Linked DNA regions of Homo sapiens. The protein of the gene in region 3 purifies or fractionates together with the protein of the main gene of each other region. This does not show direct contact. Each region holds a gene or a part of one and is shown on either strand. Other genes may lie near its edges.

Region 1 (6,578 bases), on a different chromosome or scaffold from region 3:
CTCATGATCCGCCCGCCTCGGCTTCACAAAGTGCTGGTATTACAGGCGTGAGCCACTGCACGCGGCCAGGAATAACAGAGAATATTTCTACTGAATTCACGACTGTCCTGTGCTTGGCTTTATACTCATTAAACATATATGAATTTTTAAAAAGATAAATAACACATAAGCCAATACTGAGACTGAGACATAAATTGACTGGAATAGGTTTTGAGGACATAACCATCTAACCCTCTGGTTCCCAAATGTGATTAGATTTTAAGTAATTGAGGATAGGAAAACACAGGAAAGTCTCCTAGGAGCTGTCTCTATCTGCTCTCTTCCCTTTTTTTCTTCTTCCCACTCTTTCTTGAATCCATTACAATTCTAGCCTGAAGACTGAAATGGCTCATGGAAAAAAATCACCAATGATCTCCATCCACACAGCCAAATTCCATGCTCAAATCAATCCTCACCTTACTCAACCTACCAAGAGAAAGAGATCCAGAAGTCAACCCAGTAGCTTCCAAAGACTAGGCACATAGTTATAAACAATTTTGTTACTGACGTGTCAGCTTTTAATCAGTTATGACCACTGTTGTTCATGTTAATTTCTTGCAATCACTCCTAAGAAAAAAAAATTCTCTCATTCCAAATTACAAACAACCAAATTACAAACATCTGGAACAAAACTCTTCCAAAGGAAACAAACAACTACTTTTATTGTTAAACTTTCAATTCACAGATTAACTTTCAAAGGTTCATATTTCCCACGTTCTTTTTTTTTTTTTGAGACAGGGTCTCGCTCTGTCTCAAGGCTGGAGTGCAGTGGCACGATCTTGGCTCACTTCAACCTCTGCATCCTGGGCTCAAAAAATTCTCCTGCCTCAGCCTCCCAAGTAGCTGGGACTACAGGCATGCACCACCCTGCCTGGCTAATTTTTGTATTTTTTGTAGAGACAGGATGTGTTCCCCAGGCTGGTCTCGACCTCCTGGGATCAAGCGATCCACCTGCCCTGGCCTTCCAAACTGCTGGGATTACAGGTGTGAGCCACCGCACTCGGCCCCTATTTCCCACATTCTTAATGACACCCCATCCACAGTGGTCCAATCAACTTTCAAATTAGCTCTGGGGAAAAAAATACATTTAATGAAAGCTAGAAAACCTAGAGAAGGTCTTGCTCTTCATCTTTCACTGCAGCTATGGACAGCTCGGCACCACATTTGCACCAATCAGCATGTTTGCCCATGTCCTGCCAAGGAGAGAAGTTTACATCATCACTGACAAGGTGTGTTCACCTATTCTCATCACGTAACACTGATGGATTCCATACCTAATTTATCAATCTAAGACATTACTGGACCACGTAACCTTACATATAACTACCTGACCATATTTTCACATGAAGTTGCTGCTGCTTATTATACATCAAAGTTCACGTCAATGTGGCATGAAGTCAAGAGGATTCCAAGCAAACTCCATCAAAACCTTGGGGCTCACAGCATCTCCCAGTGTGTAGATTTTCACATCTAAGTTCTGAAGACATGATCTAAGCGTGGAAGAGCTTCTGAAGTTGACCACTGATCTTCTGAGTGCAAGTCACATCTGGAAATCCTGTAGGCAATGTCATGGGCAAAATTGTGTTCATAAAACTGTGCTTAGGTCTGCTTATGATAGATTATCACGTCACGAAAAAAATGCCACAGAAGTCCAGACTTTTAACCAATCTACTAGCTTCTGCATCAGTATCACAATGCCGAGCTCTGAATTTTAAATGTGCACATATTGTCATATTCATATAGTGACTTAGAGTTTTCAAAGCACTAGGTACATGGTCCTCAAAAATGGTTGGCTTTATATGACCCAAACTAAGGACATTTCACAGGTTTCAATGTTAACGCGTATTGTGAGGGTTTGTGCATAATTATCTTCACACCAGTAAAGGTATTCACTACAATACATAAATTCATTACACAAACCAAGAATAAGCTTCTAACTTATATTGACAGATATGTCACACACGTAATTTGTCCATATTTTACTATTCCATAAATACTTACTATTTCTATCAATAATGCTACTGGAATGGAATAATATTACATAGAAAAACGTAGGAAAACCAGATATAACAAGCTCTAAAGGGCTAAATTTCAGTTATAAAATGGGTCAGAGGCTGAGAAATCACTATTTATCCACAAGAATTGCCTTATAAATCAAAAGATGACTGCAGGTTTCTCTTACATATCCAAATCTAGGAATAAGTTCATTCCATAGCAGATTTGAAAAAACACAAATATAATGTAGGAAGTAATATCATTCATGGCAAACCAACAGCATGAAATTTGGTAGGCTTATTTAGGATGAAAAGGAATAATCTAGATTGTTTTAATACCCTATAAGAGTCCATGTTAAGTCACCCTGACAAAAAATCTTTTTAAAAATATGGTAACCATAAATAAAGTTGCTCAAAGGCACCACACACACGCACACACACGGTTCTCTAATGAAATACCAGTTGAAGTGCAGCATTTTCATTACAGATAGTCAAACAGCTAGAGCTATACAATACACACAGATTTTTCCTAATAGTACCAGCAATCTTAGTTACAAAATAATACTTTTCAGTAGTCTTTCTTGATGCACATTTAAAAACCAGCACAACTCCTCTAGTGAAATGGTCAATTTCCCTTAAAAAACAACATCTGAAATTATAAGACCTGACAAATCATATTATATTTCAATATTAGACTGCTGTGGCTCTAGAACAACAGAAAAGCGTAACTTTCAAACAGCTTAGGGAAAAAGCACTGAAATGTAGATGTCGTCAATCAGCCTCAGGCATTATTGATCCTGTGCCATCCACACACCCTTAAGGTTTTTCACAGCACTCTGACGGTATTATGTGTGTTTTGCAAATGACGAATCAACAGTATGCTGAATAATCAGCAATGAAACACAGGAGATAAATTAAATGTGTTTTTCCAAATGTCAGAATATCGAGGTTCCCAGGAGTTGGCAAAACTTCTCAAGTGGCCATCCAGACTCAGGCTGTGCAGGATAAGGCTTCCTTACGTAGTGAACGGTTGAGAATATTTGCTCCCCACACCCAGAGCCATTCAGGCATATACTGTGCAAAAAGAAACTAAAAATGAAAGAGAAAAAGGTTGTAAGGTTAGAACCCAAAATCAACACTGAAGGAACAAGTACACAGACCAGCACATGAAACCCACCAATCACAACAAATACCCACCAATCAATCACAACAAATACCCACCAATCACAACAAATACCCACCAATCAATCACAACAAATACCCACCAATCACAACAAATACCCACCAATCACAACAAATACCCACCAATCAATCATAACAAATACCCACCAATCACAATACACACCAATCAAACAAATACCCACCAATCACAATACCCACCAATCAAACAAATACCCACCAATCACAACAAATACCCACCAAGCAATCACAACAAATACCCACCAATCAATCACAACAAATACCCACCAATCACAACAAATACCCACCAATCACAACAAATACCCACCAAGCAATCACAACAAATACCCACCAATCAATCACAACAAATACCCACCAATCACAACAAATACCCACCAATCACAACAAATACCCACCAATCACAACAAATACCCACCAATCAATCACAACAAATACCCACCAGTCACAACAAATACCCACCAATCACAACAAATACCCACCAATCAATCACAACAAATACCTACCAATCACAAACACCCACCAATCAATCACAATACCCACCAATCAATCACAACAAATACCCACCAATCACATTACCCACCAATCAATCACAATAAATACCCACCAATCACAATACCCACCAATCAATCACAATAAATACCCACCAATCGATCCCAACAAATACCCACCAATCACAATAAATACCCACCGATCAATCACAACAAATACCCACCAATCAATCACAACAAATACCCACCAGTCACAACAAATACCCACCAATCACATTAAATACAACAAAGGAAAAAGCCTCCAGGTACTACTGTACTGAATACCTACTTTTGCCTAAGATCTTACCCTAGATTCTACATGGAACAGAAACATGACCACCACCCACCTACCCGACTTTCTGTAATGAGGCTGGACTGTCCTGCATGTAAATACAATTCTGTCTTTACTTAACGTGATATGAACAAAATGTTCACTGGTTAAGAACCACAAAATCGGCTGGGCACGCTGGCTCATGCCTGTAATCCCAACACTTTGGGAGGCCGAGGCGGGTGGATCATGAGGTCAGGAGATCGAGACCATCCTGGCTAACAGGGTGAAACCCCATCTCTACTAAAAATACAAAAAATTAGCCAGGCGTGGTGGCGGGAGCCTGTAGTCCCAGCTACTCAGGAGGCAGAGGCAGGAAAATGGTGTGAACCGGGGAGGCGGAGCTTGCAGTGAGCCGAGATCGCGGCACTGCACTCCAGCCTGGGCAACAGAGCAAAACTCTGTCTCAAAAAAAAAAAAAAAAACACCACAAAATCATTATAGGAATAAATCAGTTGGAACAGACAGACGCATACGTGGTTAGTACTCTATGAGAAAACTGGGGCTTGAGGGGTAGTATGGAACAAAGTTCAACAAGAAAACAGGTCAGAAACACCAGTACCTTGGGATGGTATCTTGACCTATGATGGGGGTGCTCAGGGGACCAGGGAAGGGAGTCCTGCTGATGCTGCTCTGCTTCAGGGTCTCACTCAGGGCCTTTGTGCTAGCAGCAGACATAGGGCAATGTCTGAAAACAAATTTGGTCGTCACACTGGGAGTGGATGCTACTGGTATCTAGTGGGTGGAGGCCCAGGATGGTGTTCAACATCCTACAATACACAGGACGCTCCCCATGTCAAGGAATTACCTGCTCTCAATGCCAACAGTGCTGAGGTGGAGAAAGCCTACACTCCTCTAACAGATTTGTTCAGAACCGAATGAAAGTTCTAACACCGTGTATACGAAAGAGAAGAGAGACAGGCCCTTGGCAAGTACTGACATTCTAGTCTTGAACTGAACTGATGAATGATAATAGAGGTCATTCAATCCTCTTGTCAATAAATGGACACAGGTTACTCTCCAGGGAGGACACACCCACACCCACACACACACACACTCACGCACTTTGTGAACAAAATCACAGCAGCAAAAGCTATCAGAGAAATATGCCATGGACAAAACAGCAAAGGATGAATCAAATCTTTGATGTAAAATTGGAAATAAAAAATGATAGTGTTGAAAATAATTTGAGTAACATAAAATGAAAACAGAAAGTTTTAACAACTTTATACAGAAAACTACTCCAGGAATTAAATCAGCTTAACAGAATTTCTTGGCAGAAAAATACATTCTCAAGGAAAGTTTATCAATGTGAACAAAATTTAATTTTGAGTAAACTGTTCGTGTTTTATAAACACAGTCAAAACATCTACTGCACCTAAACCTGATCCTCATATCTTTATTTCTAAAAAAATTTTATGGTCAGTGACTTCTAAGACTACTTTTTAGGTTTCTCTGCTTTTCTCAAGTAATTAAAGGACCTGGAAACAACTACTTAAATAAAACTGTTTCTTCTTTTTTTTTTTTTTTTTTTTTTTTTGAGATAAGAGTCTAGCTCTGTCACCCAGGCTGGAGTACAGTGACGTGATCAGCTCACTGCCACCTCCGCATCCTGGGTTCAAGCGATTCTCATGCCTCAGACTCCCAGGTAGCTGGGACTACAGGCGTGCACCACCATGACCAGTTAATTTTTATATTTTTAGTAGAGATGGGGTTTCACCATGTTGGCAAGGCTGGTCTCGAACTCCTGACCTCAGGTGATCCACCAGCCTCAGCCTCCCAAACTGCTGGGATTAGAGATGTGAGCCACCACCACGCCCGACCAAAACTGCTTCTTATTAATCTCTCACTTTTCATAAAAGTCATAATTAACTGTTGATATACTTACATGTTTATTTGGTAGTGGCAAATCTAATACTCTTCATGCAAACAGTCCCAAAAATATCTGTTTGATAATTAAGAAAACTCCGAATATTAAAAAAAAAAAAAAATTCGGACCAGGTACAGTGACTCACACTGGTATTTTTTTTTTTTTTTTTTGTGAGACGGAGTCTTGCTCTGTCGTCCAGGCTGGAGTGCAGTGGTGTGATCTCGGCTCACTGCAAGCTCTGCCTCCCGGGTTCACGCCATTCTCCTGCCTCAGCCTCCTGAGTAGCTGGGACTACAGGCGCCCACCACCACGCCTAGCTAATTTTTTTGTATTTTTAATAGAGACGGGGTTTCACGGTGTTAGCCAGGATGGTCTCGATCTCCTGACCTCGTGATCCGCCCGCCTTGGCCTCCCAAAGTGCTGGGATTACAGGCTTGAGCCACCACGCCCTGCCAGCTCACGCTTGTAAATCCCAGCACTTTGGGAGGCCAAGGCGGGTGGATCACCTGAGATCAGGAGTTCGAGACCAGCCTGACCAACATGGTGAAACTCCATCTCTACTAAAAACACAAAAATTTGCTGGGCGTGGTGGCAGGCACCTGTAGTCCCAGCTACTCCGG
Region 2 (2,791 bases), on a different chromosome or scaffold from region 3:
AGAATGTAAATGACCTGCCAGGAAGCTGTTTTGACCTGAAACTGGGGCCTAATATGAGTCTCTAGCAAGACTCAATTAATGAAAGACATTTTTTAAACCATAGGGAAGTGAGGGGGAGGGTGGAGAACCCAAGGGAAAGGCGGCTAATGTAAGGGAAACTACTTCTCCTAAAAGACATTTCATATAAAACAAACCAAAACCAAAACCAAAAAAAACAAAAAACAAAAAAAGGAAAGAAAAAAAGCAAGGACTGCCAAGACTGCCTCTTTCTTATTCTTCCAAAAGCTCCAGCTCCTGAACTGTGGATTCTAACCAAGGTGGGTGGAGCACAGCTTGCACTGCAAGGGAATGAAGCCAATGCGAAGGCCCAGAGGGAAGGGAAGCGTTGTCAGAGTCTGGTGGTAAGCTGAATTCTGTGCCTGTTTAAATGGGGTTGTCCTTGTGGTTGCGGCATTTCCCTTCTCAACTTCAACAGACAATCAGTGGCATTACCCAAAAGTGGAGACGCATTGAGGACAGCACAGTTACAAGTGGGCATGAGTTTTTATTCTCAGTGCACAGCAGTATTGGTTTCTGTTCATCAGCAAAAAGCTTTATTGGCTCCAACAAATTATCCCTTTTAAAACTCCTCTTCTTCTTCTGGTCTCAGTGGAACAACACATTTGAATTTCAGATTTGCAGTTTATAGCATTTTTTTTCCCTAAGAACCATATAAATACATGCAAAACCTTGTACATAGAGCTTAAATAATATCAAAATGCAAATATAGATTGGGTGCACTGTTAAGCTGAATTGCAAATTATGGCAACACACACTGGACTGGGGTATACGTTGCTTTGATATCACCATTTGTTTGTTTATGTCATGCAGACCACAATAGTCAATCTTTTGTTTTTCTTTTTTGTACAAAAATACCAGTGCTTGTTATACTAGTTACTAAAAGAAGAAGAAACTCAAAATTCCTATCTGCGTGCTAATTTGAAAAGAACAACGTAGATAGATTTGTTGGCACATATATATGGCATATTCACATATGGCATATATACATATGGGGAGAAAACATGAACCAAAGGCCAATTCAGTTATGGGAGCTCATCTCCTTCCATCTCTCCTAATCAAGAGCAAAGGGAACAGCAGGCCTAACAGCAGGGTTGGGAAGGCAAAAGGACTGGCACTGAACTAAGTGAAAGGGCGTCTGGTCTATTCAGAGGAAGAGGCTGGAATGGCTTAACAATAGCAGGCATTTATAAGTGCCCACCCTCACCAATGCATCGGGGGTGGTCCCTAGATATGAAAGGTGAGGAAGTCTCTGCATACTGTGATGGTACCACGGGCTGCTTCAATTGTAAGGCAAAGGAAGCAGGAAAGAAAGGAAGGGATGCATTTAGAGGCTTTTCCACACAAGCGAGTGTGCCACGCCCCTCTGGGTTTTCAGCAGTGAGGTAACCATTCAGATTTAACCATGCCAACTCTCCTCTCTGAAGCTCAAGGGGAAGAAGAAACTCAAACCCTAAAGAACCCACAAGTGTCCAGAGGGATTTCTAGGTGATCTCTCTCTTAACCCCTTTAGGGACAGGAGAGTCATTCCAGAGGACAGATGATACTATGGGAAGGATCTAGCCTTAAGACTGTCACTCAGGGCTAGAACCAGCCATTGTTTTATCCATTTAGAATTCTGTCCCCATTTAATATATTGCACAAAATCTTTCTAGGGGAGGGAAGGCATCACAAATAAGATCCTTGCACAAAAACTCACTAATGGAAAACTCCAGGGGGAACAGGAAATAAAAACCATGAAAAATGCAAACCCCAAATCAGAGTATCCTTATAGACCAGGAGATATTCGTGTCTTTTATACCACTCTGCCAGCTATTCTTCAAGAAACACAAATCCAACAGAGGCCCCTGATCCTAATGACTAGTCAGGAAAGATTCTGTCTATCCATCTGCATGGTGGGGGTTGGGGGGAAGATTCATTTCCTGACAGCTGTGTCCCTTGCTGGGTGTTTTCCTGACTATCCACAGTTTACTACCCGTTTTTCTAGGTTTATTAAGAGAGGAAGCTAGGATGATACGTTCTCCTTCTCCCCATCAGACCCTTTTCAAATCCAAAGCACCATTTTGGGGAAAAGTGTTATTAACTTATGCCATATTTACCCACTGCCAGTTGGATCAGTGAAACTGAATAGAAAAAACTTATATAAAAAACATATGCACATAGACACTTAAACTTACCTAATTCCATATCAACAAAATTTATATTAAAAAAGTCTAGAACCCAACAATTTTTCTTCCCTAAGTATAAAGATGGCTGTTTGCAGAAAGAAAGTATGGTGTATTGGTTTTAAAACCAATTACAAATATACTAAGTCACCTGTCATGCCAAACAGCTGGTTATGTGCTCCCTTCCACAGGGCTACATGACGGCACTTTATTTTAAATCCTTTAAACAAAATACATATGGCTGACCCAAAAATATCAGTTTCTGATCTAAAGAAAACTATAATTTTTGCATATATTTCTATATTTTCTCTCCTATTATGGAAACTAGAACACAAGAAAAAAAACCATTGACTTTTAAAAAGTAGACACAAGCCCTCAAGGGTAACCTGTCAGGCACCATGAGAACCTTTTGTGAACAGGAATGGTAAAATAGCCTTCAAAGCTCGTTATTGGCTTGCTATTTAAAATGATCTGAGGTAATACAAGATTTGATAGAATTAAATCTTCTAAAATAGTTGATGAATATATATGTGAAACCTAACACCTTGGGTGAGCTGTTTTTTTCCCCT
Region 3 (7,041 bases):
TCCAAAGTAAGAAAATGTCTAGCCTTCCTAGCCCTTATAAAAACAGTGAGGAAACTGCCTGCCCTCATATTCCAAGCAGGTTACCACATTATTATCTTCAGGATAGAAGGAGAGCAGAAAAGGGTTACCCATCTCTCTTCTTCTGAGGCAGCTCTCTGATATTTTCTCATTTTCATCTTCTGGACCCTGGAGTCCAAATGCTTCATTGCTCATGTTTCATGTCCATGCACCCAGGGCCTAAGCAACAACTCTTATCTGGGACACTGGCCTCCAAAGTCAGAGACAGGAAGGTCTACCTTGAGTCACAGTGTCCCAGGAGCTAGCAAGAAGTAGACTTTGAGAAAAATCATAAAGGAACAACAGTGTTCCCCGTGTATCCTGCAGCCCATGAAATGCTATATTCATCTCCAATTAAGCCAGGGCACAACCAAACATACCTCTTGGGCTTTTCAAGATCATCTGCTAGGCCCCAGAGCCAAACTGACCCAAGGCAAATTTACATTAGCAGGATCTTCCCACACAAATACTGCAGCTTTGCACACAGTATCCAGTGGGCTGAAAAGGAGTCCTGAGCACTCTTTTATCTAGTAAACTTTATCTTCCCCCTTATAAATCAACTTCATTCTCTGATCTGAGTTCCTGTTTCAGTGTCCCTGCCTAACTCTCAGTTCCCTTAATGGCAATGAAGCTGCACTGAACCTTGGTACTCTTGGCTGGAGTTCTAACTCTTTGCCTGGTCCTGATCAGCCACATTCCCACCTCCCCCATCTTTGTCCTCAGTGAGCTGGCTTTTCTGTCCCACATTCTTGTCTAGTAGCTGAAGTTGTGCTTAATAGAGATCACAATGTTACTGTGACTTTAAATATGATTTTCCATCTGGAATTTTGCATGGCTGTCTGATATGGACTGGGCTAGACCTCTTGACATCAGTATTATCTGAGGGAGAAAGTCCAGGTTTGCCAACTACTCTGGACATAGGGCTTTCAGTTATCCCCATTTGTGAAGTTATTATACTGATAGCAGTGGCCTTAGACCTCAACCACTTTTATTACAGTCGTATCTCAGATATAGCCAAGCCTTCCTCAATTCATGACATGCTCTAGAATTTATACCTACTAGTATAGATATAAAGAATTGGAAAAGAACCCAGAAATCAACAAATCCAATCCTATCTCTTATCTTAAAGATTAGGAAGAAAGAGGTCTGAAGAGGCTAGATGACTTGTCTAAGGTTACACGGTGATTTAGAGGTAGACATAGAACCTAGGTCTCCCGATTCCTTTCCTGAGGGGTTTCCCACCGTGCCACATTCCTTTAAAATCCCCTGAAACATAATGAACCAGGTCTTCTAAACTCTCAGGGTTGGCTTCAGTAATCTCTTAAGTCCCATGCTTTCCATTGCAGCCCCAGATAGTTCCCCAGGCCAACAGAAGACTATTCATGGGGTTTTCAAGCATGGTAGAAAAGGCCCATTGTCTCTCAACCCCAGAACATCCCTCTCTTCTGCCAATAAGAGCCTTGTTCCTGATTCATGTGAAACATGAAACAGCCACCCTTACCACGCTGGCAATGTCTGTTGAAGAACTGCTTGCAGTAGAGGAAGAAGAGCCCCAGGAAGGCCAGGGTAAACACCACTAGCAGGCTGCTCACCAGTGCAACAAGTGTGGCCTCCTGAGGGGGCACTGTGGGTGTATCTGCCTCCACTAAGCTCAACTGGAAGGCACCTGTGAGACAAAAAAATGGGGGAGGTCAGTTAGCATGGGCAGTAAACAGTCACCCTGACCCTGGACCTGGACTTCCTCAGGCTGTCACCCTTCTCCCTAGGGCCTTCCCCAATTAGGGTGGCTATGCTGGTTTTACTTCTTTCTAGAGCAGGCAAAATTATAAAGAACAAGGCAAAATAATTTGTATATAGTGCTGGTATGTAGAAATTAGTACAATTAATCGAAGATGCACATATCCTGTGATCTTTCTGTGCCACATCTAATTATATAATCCAGATCAATGGAAACAAGCTAAAAAATTCATCAGTAGAGCACAAGATAAACAAATCATGATATAATCCTAAAATCTTACATTATTATACAGCACTTAAAGGCCTTTATGGATCAATATAAATAATCTAGAGGGGGAAAAAGGAAGTTGGAGAAACAGAACATATAGCTTGATATCATTTCTATAAAACATTATACAATACATAACAATAGCATATATTGGTTATGAATATGCACACATATCACAAAAGAACCCAAGTATTAAAACATTAGTGGAGAGTATGGCAGAGGTATAGTGCTCACCAGTTATCCACATACTCCCATGTATTTCCCTTACACCCTTGCAGTAAGGCCATCAGAGTACTTCTGGCCAATGAACTGTGAGTTGAAATAACATGTGTCACTTCCAGACTGAGGCAGTTAAGAACCAGTATGTCTCCTCCATCTCTTCCCCTGTGTCATTGACCTGGAAGACATATGGTCTAGAATGCACAGTCAAATGATGTAGGAAGGCCTTTGCATAGTAAAAAAAAAATAAACTTTTATTGTATAAAGTCACTGAGATTTTGCAGTTTGTTTGTTACTTTAGCATAGCCTACCAACAGAATACATACAATTTCAGGATAGTGGTTGTATCTGAGGAGGTAGGGAGGTAATAGGACTCTGAGAGAATCTAGAAGAGAATTCCATTATATCTGTGGAATCTTTATTCTTTTAAAACATCTGAAGCAAATATGCAAAATGCTATGATTTATTAACTTTGGATAGATGCTGGGTGATTGCATTTTAATTTTATATTTTTCTGCACTTAAAAATATTTCTACATGTTTGAAAACTTTCATGATTTAAAAAATATGTCAATAATTTTAAAATAGGAAGTAAGTAAATAGATGGTAGACAAAAAAGATAGACGATTAGATAAATGGATAGTGGTATAGGCATAGATTGGACCCTAGTTCTTCATTCAGCCTCTTACAAGTCCTCAGCCCTAGGGGCTCCTATATACTTCATATAATAATAATATCTCATAGGTTTACAAATATTATAATTTGTGAAGTGCTTCCTAACATCCATTTTCTCATTAGACCTAGATACCCATCACACAAGGTATGAAGAAAAATGATTATCATGACTCACCCTTTTTTCAGAAGTAGGAAATGAGGTTCAATGAGATTGAATGATTTGCATAGAGTTGCAAAGATAATATGTTGTAAAACCAGACTTCTAATCTGATTCCCTTGCCACTCTACTCTACATGAAAAGGTATGAGGGGATATGGGTAGTCTTTACTACCCTATCTTGCTGCCACCCAATGGGATGAGGAGAAAGGGAAGAAGAGAACTGGGTACACACATTGAACCTCAGAGGTGGGGGTCTGCTTCGTGCACGGGATGCACTCTTGGTCCTGCAGGCCTCCAATGCGTGTCTTTCGGTAGAACCTGTGTTCAGAGCAATTAGGAATGGCAGGGTGATCAAACAAGCAATGCACTTGGACCAGTTCTTCCTGGGAAAGCAGCTCCTAAGAATCTTGCCAACCTGAAAGTAAGTGCCCACCCCTCTTTCTGAGTTATCTGCCTCTGTGTCTTTTTCTGACTCAGAGACCCAGACACTCTACTTCTTCCCCCATTCATGACACCATGTAGCCAAAAGGAGACCTAATTCCACAAGAGAGGGGTGCACTGCTTTGATACCAAGTACATCATAACTTCTTTTAAGTCTACAGTGAGATTTACCTTGAACTTTGGTCTTCAGCTGAGAGTGATGATGGAAAAGCGGTCAAGTACTCATCTGTGACTGACAATGTGCTAAGCACTTTATAGAGGTATCTTGGGAAGACACCACTTCTCTCTTCTGGGAGCTTAAACTGAATATTATGTTTATAAGAAGAATATTTCGACTAAGTTCTGAGAGGTGAGGATGGGAGAAACCTCCAACAGCTAGAAAAGCCCAGACAAGCTTGGTCTCATAAAGCAAGCTCACCTGGGCAAACAGTCCCCACAGACAGCATTAGAGGTAGCTGTGCAGTTGACCTTCTGAACACGATTGATGACAGCACAGGTGATGCAACTCTGACATCTGTGGTGGCCCCAGCTGCTTTTGTACCTGCGAGGAGGGCAGGCTGTGCAGTAGGCATCTCCACCCTCTCCATAACCACAATCCTGTAGACAGATGGGGGTTGTTAATATTGCTTTATAGGAGCTTGGAGATGGGATCACCTGTGGGACAAGTGGACTGTACAGGGTAGTATTTTGCAACTTGCAACCCCATTACTAAGTCATAAAACCAATTCACTAGCTTCCAGCCAGCATTGAAAGATAAAATAGAATGAAATAGAATAATAGTATCAAATATAAGAGTACATGGAATGAAGTAAAGCTAAGTATTTGTATCAGTCAGCATAGGCTATGCTGCAGTATGGCAAAAGTCAAACCCTAAATCTCAGTGTCTTAAAAGAATAAAAGTTTATTTCTCACTCATCATATTTGCCTACCAGGGGGTTCCTGAGGACTCTGCTGTACATCATCCTCAATGGGGTACCCGGGGTTACAGAAGCTTTATTTTTCTGCTTTTATGATTGAAACATTGTGAACTGCGTACAAGCTCTTAAAGTTTTCCCCAAGAAATGACCCATATTGCTTTACTCACATGTCCTTGGCCATACACATCACATGATCATTAATAACTACAACAGGTACAAGAAAATGCAATTCTACAATGTGACAGAATGTGGGGAGCTGAAATATTTGACAAATAGTCATAAGCACTACCCACATAAGTACTGTTTTATAAAAGTTTTACAGATAAAATGCATGAAAGTATATATTGGGTTGTGATAAAAAGTTATTTCTTACTCTAGGTCATGGTAAAAAATGTTTGAATGCCAATGGTATAGATGAGAGGCAAACACTCTAGCTGGCTCTTGTCTCAGCTCTGGTACTAACTTTGGCCATATTCCTTCCCCCCGACCCCCAGTTTCTGGGCATCAGAAGTCCCAACACTGAGGAAATTGAAATAAATGCTCTCTAGAGATTCTTAGATCTGACAGCCTAACTTCAACAGGAACAAGGCTCCTGCCTGATACCAGTCACAGCTCTTTCTCAAAGAAACAATTCTAGTTGTGAAAGCATATTAATTGTATGCTAGTTGTAGCAGAAGCTGGCTGGTTGTTCACTTAACCTATTCTTTATTTCTCCTGGGAACACCATTAGCCAAAATTCTTTAACCCCACTGCAATGAAGTGGGGGCATGTGCATCATTTCTAGCCAATGAAATATGGATACTAATATTGTTTGCCATTCCCAGGCTTGACTCAAAAACATGTCCTGTGTGATACTTAAATTTTCTTCATACATTCATTTTCCAGTGCATGCTGACACCCCTGGAAACCTTGGAATAAATATATTAAGAATGATAGCGGAAGCCAGATAAAATGGAGGAGTAGGCAGCTTCAAGCTCTTATGCCCCTACAGAAACATAGAAAAACAAGCAGGAACTGTCATAATCAATGTTGTCAGAACTCTGGAAAACATTCAAAGGCTTACATCAACCATGTAAATGTTAAATCAAGAAAAAGGTCACTTGAAAATAATAGGAAAGTTTTCTGCTATTTTTACTTGTACTTGTTACATCCCTCACCCCAGAGCAGTGGCAGTCCTAAAGTAGTGGAAGTCTTAAAGTAGCCTCAGCCTGTATTCCTAGTGTGAGACCTCAGTACCTGATTCCAGAGTGAGCTAAGCAAAACTTATTGACAAATTACTGTGTATGTCTGTCCTAACCTATTTGAGGGCTATTTGAAGGACTGATACAAGGTATTTATGTATGTTCCACTCGATTGAGAATGCAGATTGGAAAAGTGATGGGCACTGTTTCAAAATGTTGCAAGGCAAACTAACAAACCACAATACCTAGGGCAATGATTATGGATTAAGACATAAAACAGACTGTCTGAATCTGGGAGCAAAAGCTGGGGGAGGTTCCTTTAGAAATAAGTACATTCAAAAGTATCCACATGGAGGAATTTAGAAAGGTGTGTGCATACAAGACACATGCTCAGAAAATACTAGTGGAGACCTAAAGCTTACATGTCAGGCTGATCCCTAAGCTAAGTGCACATCTGGCTAACTGTTTAAGTAGTTCCCCAGCACAGAGCCAATCTAAAAATGTGAGAGTAATGTGTGACTATTTTTTCTTTTGGTTGTTGTTGTCATTTTTTAACTTTTAGCATTCAATGAAATTGCTGTCCAAACATTAGCTGAACATGAGCTAAATTAACATAGGTTTCAATGGCGATACATGACAAAAAATAGTCTCTACAAAAATAGTTTGGAAAAACACCTAAACAAATGGAGTGCTAGCCTAGGCAACACGGCAAAGCCTTGTTGCCAAAAATACAAAAATTAGTTGGGAATGGTGGCATGCACCTGTGGTCCCAGCTACTCAGGTGGCTGAGATGGGAGGATCGCTAGAGCCCGGGAAGTGGAGGCTGAAGTCAGCAATAACCATGACACTACACTCCAGTTGGGGTGACAGAGCAATACCCAGTCCCAAACAAAATAATAATAATAACAATAATGATAATAATAACAACAACAGATGGACTACTATAGCCTTCAACAACACAAATCTAGAAAACAAACAAACAAAACCAAAACCAAAAGTAAAACAGGAAGAGGGGAAATCTGACTACCAGAGTTACTTCATTACAATACAAAACTGCCCAGTTTTTAACAACAAAAAAATAAATCACACAGTGTAAAAAGAAACAGGCAAGTGTGGCCCATTCAAAGGAACAAGAAAAAGAAAGAATTGAGACTATTCTTGAGGAAGCCCAGACATTGCACTTAGTAGACAAAGACTAAAAGAACTGTCTTAAATTTGCTCAAAGACACACATGGACAAAGAACTAAAAGAAATCAGGAAACAAATGTATAAACAAAGTGAGAATATTGGTTAAGAAAAATTGTAAAATGGAACCAAACATGAATACTGGAGCTAAAAAGTAAGATAAATGAAATGAAAACTTCACTAGAGAATTTGAGTAGGTAAAA
Region 4 (7,041 bases), on a different chromosome or scaffold from region 3:
CTGGTGGGGACAGGGAAAGCAGAGGAGGTCACTTCGTTCCAGCTGTTGGAAGTACAACTTCTGGAGTCAGTCAGATCCGGGATTAAATATGAGTTCTGCCCGTGTGTCACAAGTCATCTCTAACACGGGCCACAGAGGCCAAGGCTGGGCCAGCAGCATTGATGGCTCGAGAGGCTGCCCTTGCAGGGGCCACAGCTGGCCTCCCACCTGCCCTCACTTTGTCTTTCTCTGTTTAGGGAGGGAAGAGGGAATTTAAAATGCCCAAAATACTGTTTCACACATTCTTTCCAGAACTCGAAGTAGGATTATAGCAAGGTAATAACGAAACAATAGTTGTAAAGTATGTTTTTTTGTTTGTTTGTTGTTTGTTTTTGGGACAGGGTCTCTCTCTGTCACCCAGGCTGGAGTGCAGTGGCTCAATCATAGCTTACTGTTACGTGACCCCAAACCCTTGGGCTCAAGTGATCGTCCCACCTCAGCCCCCTGAGCAGGTGGGACTACAGGCGCACACCACCACACCCAGTTAATTTTTACATTTTTTTCACACAGTGTCTCGCTGTGTTACCCAGGCTGGTCTCGAACTCCTGAGTTCAAGTGATCCTCCCGTCTTGGCCTCCCCAAAGATTACGGGCATGAGCTGCTGTGTCTGGCCAGAATACAGGATTTTAAAAATTTATGTTTTGCAACATAATTAATATAAAGACAAATATAACCCAGGCCCAGTTCTAGTTATTCATTCTTCTGAATTTTAAAAGGAAACATTTGGCTGGCCCCTAATGGTATCATGGGCCCTGGTACCTGATGAAGTTGGCCTAGTCTGCCCCCAGCTCCTGAACAGTGGAAGAGTTTTTAGTCTCATTGAGCTTTGTACTGGACATTACTAATTTCTAATCCAAAGCATCAAGTGAAGTGGCTTGTATAAATAACTGGTTTTCCTCTGGGAGGCTAAGGCGGGTGGATCACTTAAAAGTTAGGAGTCTGAGACCAGCCTGGCCAACATGGTGAAACCCCATGTCTGCTAAAAATACAAAAATTAGCTGGGTGTGATGGTGTGTGCCAGTAGTCCCAGCTACTCTTGTGGCTGAGGTGGGAGAATCGCTTGAGACCCTTGAGAATTGGGAGGTAGAGATTGCAGGGAGCCGAGATGGCGCCACTGCACTCCAGCCTGGGTGACAGAGCAAGACTCTGTTTCATAAAAAATAAATAAATAACTGGTTTTCTGGACGAGGGCCTTTCCCATAGGTGCTAACTTCTCAAAGCCCGGCTGGGTGAACACTGAGCCTGCTTTGCAGGTAGCAGGTGGTCACGACAGTGCCATTCCCTGGCCCCTGCATTGTGGCTTCTGGCCTCCCTGGCCCTGCTCACGCTCTGGCTTTCTCTTCCCAGGAACACCATGGAGGCACTGCCCGCCTGCCTGCTCCGAGACGTGGCCCAGGAGGCCCTGGGCGTGGCTGTCATAGGCATCGACGAGGGGCAGTTTGTAAGTTGGCTTGTCTTGGCATCACTCTTCCTGCCAGCTTCCGCTCTGTCCTCCCGTTTTCCCTCGCTGACTTGGAAGTTATCTGATCTTTTAGTAAAATAACAAGGTTAAATAGCTACAACTAGTGTTGGAATACCCTCTGAAGGCCCCTTTCTAGTTTCCCTGTCATAGTGTCATAGTCTTGTAGGATTCGTTTTACTTTTTTTTTTTTTTTTTTGAGACGGAGTTTTGCTCTTGTTGCCCAGGCCGGAGTACGATGGCACAATCTCACCGCAAACTTTGCTTCCTGGGTTCAAGCAATTCTCTCCTGTCTCAGCCTCCCGAGTAGCTGGGATTACAGGCATGCGCCACCACGCCCAGCTAATTTTATATTTTTAGTAGAGATGGGGTTTCTCCATGTTGGTCAAGCTGGTCTCAAACTCCCAACCTCAGGTGATCCGCCCCGCCTTGAACTCCCAAAGCGCTGGGATTACAGGCATGAGCTACCACACCTGGCCATTGTACCTTTTTAAAAATACATATATCTATTTACTGGCAAGATGCAGTGACTCACACCTGTAATCTCAGCCTGTGGGAGGCCAAGGTGGACAGATCACTTGAGCCCAGGAGTTGGAGACTCACCTGGGCAACATAGTAAAACCCCATCTCTACCAAAAAAAAAAAGAAATTAGCCAGTCATAGCAGCGCACACCTGTGGTCCCTGCTACTCAGGAGGCTGAGGCAGAAGGATGGAGCCTGGGAGGTCGAGGCTGCAGTGAGTGGTGATAGCACCACTGCACTCCAGCCCGGGCGACAAGGCCAGACCCTGTCTCAAAAAAAAAAGGGGGAGGTGGGGAGTAATGTTTGGTTTGCCTCATGGTTCCTTTTGCTTGTTTCTTATACGTTTATTTTCTTGTTGTTGAAGTACCTTTTTTAGTAGTTTTTGCAGCCAGGAGGTATAGATGGGAAGCTGCCAGTCTTTGTATGGAAATCTTTCTTTTGTCATCTAGTTTAAGCTGGGCAGCAAGAGGTAGGTTGATCTTGTGTGGGTTTGGGTTTTTTTTTTTTTTTTGAGACGGAGTCTTACTCTGTCGCCCAGGCTGGAGTGCAATGGCGTGATCTCGGCTCACTGCAACCTCTGCCACCCGGATTCAAGCGATTTTCCCACCTCGCCTCCCAAGTAGGTGGGATTACAGGCACCCACCATCATGCCTGGCTAATTTTTGTAGAGACAAGGGTTCACCATGTTGGCTAGGCTGGTCTTGAACTCCTGACCTCAGGTGATCCACCCGCCTTGGCTTCCCAAAGTGTTGGAATTACAGGCATGAGCCGCCGTGCCCGGCCTTTTTAATTTTTATTTTTTTTGAGATGGAGTCTTGCTCTGTTGCCCTGGCTGGAGTGGAGTGACGTGATCTTAGCTCACAGCAACCTCCGCCTTTTGGGTTCAAGCAGTTCTGCCTCATCCTTCCGGGTAGCTGGGATCACAGGTGCGTGCCACCATGCGTAGCTCATTTATGTATTTTTAATAGAGATGGGGTTTCACCATGTTGGCCAGCTGGTCTGGAACTCCTGACCTCAGGTGATCCGCATGCCTCAGCTCCCAAAGTGCTGGGATTACAGGCGTGAGCCACCACGCCTGGTCTTGATCTTGTTGCTTTGAAAAGTAGCAGCGCTGGTCATTGTGTTTTTGCTCAGAGGAAGGCCGCCATCTCTCTAATGTTACCTCTGGTCAGGTATTCTATCTGTTCTCTCTCAGCACAATGTGTGTAGGGGAAGCTTTGTTTCATTTATCCTGCTTTATAGCTGGTGTGCCTTTTCATTTCTGGGGAAGGAATGAAGCCATTATCACTTCAGGTATTTCTCTCCTCATCCATCTCTGAGGTGTTCTGGGTTCCATCTTCCAGAGTGTGTTTTGTTTCAGTGACTATTTTTACATCTGCTGCTCTAATTCATCATGCTCCGTTTTGTTTGACAAGTTACTGTTGGGTTATTTTTAAATTTATGCTGTTCCTTCCATTATGTTCCTGAAAATCTTTTCTTAGACTTTTCCAGATTTTTCTATTTCCTCAGGAACATATTCTGTGGTTGAGTTTCTGGGTTATTTTCTGTTATCTTAGTTTTCTTTCCTCTGCTTTGGAGATTTTATTTTTGTTAGTTTATCACAAAGAATGAAACTGAAACTCTCTCCAAGGGGTTTAGCAGACTTGACCTCTTAGGTACTTTTAGGGTTGCCTCGAAGTACACAATGTGGTGGTTTGATATAAACATAACAGGAATTTATTTCTCGCTCACAGACCCCCTACGTGGTTCCAGGCCGGTTGATGGGGAGGCCGCCCACGAGGCGGCTTAGGTCGCCCTGGCTGGCTGTATACAGACACGGAGGGGAAGAGACGTGGCGGAGCCCCTGGGTGTGAGGTTTTCATGGGCCTGACCAGAAGCTGCAAACGTCACTTCTGCTGATCTTTCAAAGACTAGAACCTGGGCACAGGGCCACCTATACGTTTAGTATACTTAGTCCAGTTCGTTTTTTGTTTGTTTTTAAAAACAGTCTTGCTCTGTGGCCCAGGCTGGAGTGCAGTGGCGCAGTCTCGGCTCACTATAACCTCCATCTCCCAGGTTCAAGTGATTCTCCCGCCTCAGCCTCCTGAGTAGCTGGGATTACAGGCTTCTGCCACCATGCCCAGCTAACCTTTTGTATTTTTAGTAGAGACGGGGTTTCATCATGTTGACCGGGCTGGTCTGGAACTCCTAACCTCAGGTGATCTGCCTGCCTCAGCCTCCCAAAGTGCTGGGATTACAGGCGTGAGCCACCACGCCTGGCCACACTTAGTCTAGTTCTATACCCTGGAGGAAGAATAAATGAGTTGGTTTGGTGAGTGCTTCGAGGTCTCTACCCGCCCTGCCTCCCAGCACAGAGCCAGGCCGCTCTGGCCTGAATACCCTGCCCGGACGTCACAGGGCCTGTCCCCTCAAAAGGCCAGTCCTGCCTTCCTGGTTCTGTTCTTGCCCAACATTCTGTATGAGTCACAGCTGCAAATTCCATTCCCGTGGGGAGGCTGACGGGTCCCTTCCCCTGTGCGGGGCATCTGCCCTGTGGAGTTGAGGCTGCCAGTGTCCGCTCTGGGTTCCCGACCACCCGGCAGCTGGCATCTCCTCCCCGCTTGGGTATGGCCATTCCGTTTCTGACCTTCAGAGGTGCGCCCCTGAGCACCCCCATGCCTCTGCGTACGTGGAGACGTCGTTGTTGCTGCCCCGTGCTTGAGGGACTCCTGGCGAGAAAGTGAGCCCAGGCTGGGAATAGGGCTGCAGCTGTTCTCTTTTGCTCCCAAACTGTGGCCTCAGAATGCATCCAGGGATTTTGCATCAGCTTTGGGGACATGGCCCTCTCAGAACAAGGAAGCTTCAGCTTTGGCAAGGCTCTCCCTCCTTCAGACCTGCCGCTGTGAGTTGTTCAATAGCTCTGTTCTCCTGGCTCTGCGTAAACCTTGTTGACAGAGGCTGACCCAGACCCCCGAGGCAGAAACCTTTCCCTTCTCCTTCCTCGACATCCAAATGCCCTGAGTCAGGAGCCAGCGTATGAAGTCCTGTCCCCTGTTCAGCCTATAGGAGGGATTTCTCGGTCTACTTCCTCCCTGGCCAGCAAGTAAAACTTGAGTTCATTCAGTGAGTATTTATTACACCCTACCCAGACATCAGCATTCTGCCCTGGCCTCTGTGTGCCCTTGTTCTCTTCAAGAAGTTCCGGGTCACCAGCCTGACCAACATGGAGAAACTCCGTCTCTACTAAAAATACAAAAATTAGCCAGGCGTGGTGGCGCATGCCTGTAATCCCAGCTACTTGGGAGGCTGAGGCAGGAGAATCGCTTGAACCCGGTAGGCGAAGGTTGCAGTGAGCCAAGATCGCCCCATTGCACTCCAAGCCTGGGCAACAACAAGAGCAAAACTCAGTCTCAAAACAAAACAAAACAAAAGAAGTTCAGGGTCTTCCCATTGCAAGCAGTTCTAGATCGAGGAGAGGGGTTCCTAGCATGGGACCCAGCAGAAGGACTGTCCTTCGCTCCTTCATTGTCTACGTGGACAGTGGATGAAGCCCAGCCGAACCTGCCTTGTTCCCGTTTTCTGGGTCAGCAGGGAAAGCCTTTCACAGAGTAGCCACCGTGCCATCCTGAGGAAGGCCCTGGGTCAGAAGCTTCTGTGCTTCTTTGTACCCCGGGCGAGACACACAGGTGCTCACACTGCTCTGTAGAAACTGTTGGCATCCAAGAGAGACTCACCTGGAAATCTCTGGAAAACCTGAAGCTCCTAGCTGGGGGTGCTGTGCTTCAGATGCTGGTGGTGGGTGGGCACCCTTGCATCAACAGCTGCACAGTGTGTGGTGGGCTTGCAGGGTCGCTTGGCAATAGTAGGAGCTCTGATTTATTTTTTTAAACTTTTTTTCTGGCTGGGCACGGTGGCTCACACCTGTAATCCCAGCACTTTGGAAGGCCTAGGCGGGCGGATCACTTGAGGTCAGGAGTTTGAGACCAGCCAGGCCAACATGGTGAAACCCCATCTCTACTAAAAATACAAAAATTAGCCAAGCGTGGTGGCACACACCTGTAATTCCAGCTACTTGGGAGGCAGAGGCACAAGAATTGCTTGAACCTGGGAGGCAGAGGTTGCAGTGAGCCAAGATTATGCCACTGCACTCCAGCCTGGATGACAGAGCGAGACTCTGTCTCAAAAAAAATAGACAAAGCCAGGCGCAGTGGCTCATGCCTGTAATCCCAACACTTTGGGAGGCCGAGGTGGGTGAATCACGAGGTCAGGAGATCGAGACCATCCTGGCTAACACGGTGAAACCCCGTCTCTACTGAAAATACAAAAAAATTAGCCAGGCGTGGTGGCGGGCACCTGTAGTCTCAGCTACTCGGGAGGCTGAGGCAGGAGAGTGGCGTGAACCCAGGAGGCGGAGCTTGCAGTGAGCTGAGATCACGCCACTGCACTCCAGCCTGGGCGACAGAGCGAGACTCCGTCTCAAAAAAAAAAAAAAAATAGACCTTTTTGTGTTTTCTGTTCTACTACACAAGTAATACAGGTTGAGTATTCCTTAACCTAAATGCCTGGGACCAGAAGTGTTTCGGATTTCAGGTTTTCGAATATTTGCATGTTCATAATATAATGAGACCTTGGGAATGAGCCCCAAGTGTAAACACAAAATCCATTTATGTTTTATAGACATCTTAGGCACATAGCCTGAGAGTAATTTTATGTATTTAGTAATTTGGACGTGAGCCACAGTTTTTGACTGTGACCTGTCCCATGAGGTCAGGTGTGGAATTTTCCACTTGTGGTGGGCGCTCAAAAAGTTTCAGATTTTGGAGCCTTTCAGGTTAGAGACATGCAATCTATAATAAGTTTAATCTAGGAAAAGTTAGGGTCTGGCACAGAGGCTCACGTCTGTGATCCCAGCACTTTGGGAGGCTGAGGCAGGCAGATCACTGGAAGTGCTGGACGGGTGGGGAAGTGCCGGGTGCAAGAACCAAGCTCTTTGACTATGGACCTCAGCCTGAGGTTGGTCAAGAGGTGGAGTGAGTGGGGGC

The links.
Region 1: the proteins of EDA2R (region 3) and HSDL1 purify together in Homo sapiens (affinity purification with mass spectrometry; 3 studies listed by BioGRID and IntAct, with this or other methods). This does not show direct contact.
Region 2: the proteins of EDA2R (region 3) and ATP2B4 purify together in Homo sapiens (affinity purification with mass spectrometry; 3 studies listed by BioGRID and IntAct, with this or other methods). This does not show direct contact.
Region 4: the proteins of EDA2R (region 3) and TK1 purify together in Homo sapiens (affinity purification with mass spectrometry; 2 studies listed by BioGRID and IntAct, with this or other methods). This does not show direct contact.

The regions. Positions count from the first base shown.
Region 1 is NC_000016.10:84,121,607-84,128,184, forward strand, and holds the end of HSDL1 (inactive hydroxysteroid dehydrogenase-like protein 1), read right to left. Parts: intron 3,123-6,578; coding exon 3,024-3,122; 3' UTR 535-3,023; downstream 1-534.
Region 2 is NC_000001.11:203,741,815-203,744,605, reverse strand, and holds the end of ATP2B4 (plasma membrane calcium-transporting ATPase 4), read right to left. Parts: 3' UTR 525-2,791; downstream 1-524. UniProt on the Homo sapiens protein: Calcium/calmodulin-regulated and magnesium-dependent enzyme that catalyzes the hydrolysis of ATP coupled with the transport of calcium out of the cell. By regulating sperm cell calcium homeostasis, may play a role in sperm motility.
Region 3 is NC_000023.11:66,601,075-66,608,115, forward strand, and holds part of EDA2R (tumor necrosis factor receptor superfamily member 27), read right to left. Parts: intron 4,153-7,041; coding exon 3,974-4,152; intron 3,433-3,973; coding exon 3,347-3,432; intron 1,724-3,346; coding exon 1,559-1,723; intron 1-1,558. UniProt on the Homo sapiens protein: Receptor for EDA isoform A2, but not for EDA isoform A1. Mediates the activation of the NF-kappa-B and JNK pathways. Activation seems to be mediated by binding to TRAF3 and TRAF6.
Region 4 is NC_000017.11:78,177,028-78,184,068, reverse strand, and holds part of TK1 (thymidine kinase, cytosolic), read left to right. Parts: intron 1-1,386; coding exon 1,387-1,480; intron 1,481-7,041. UniProt on the Homo sapiens protein: Cell-cycle-regulated enzyme of importance in nucleotide metabolism. Catalyzes the first enzymatic step in the salvage pathway converting thymidine into thymidine monophosphate.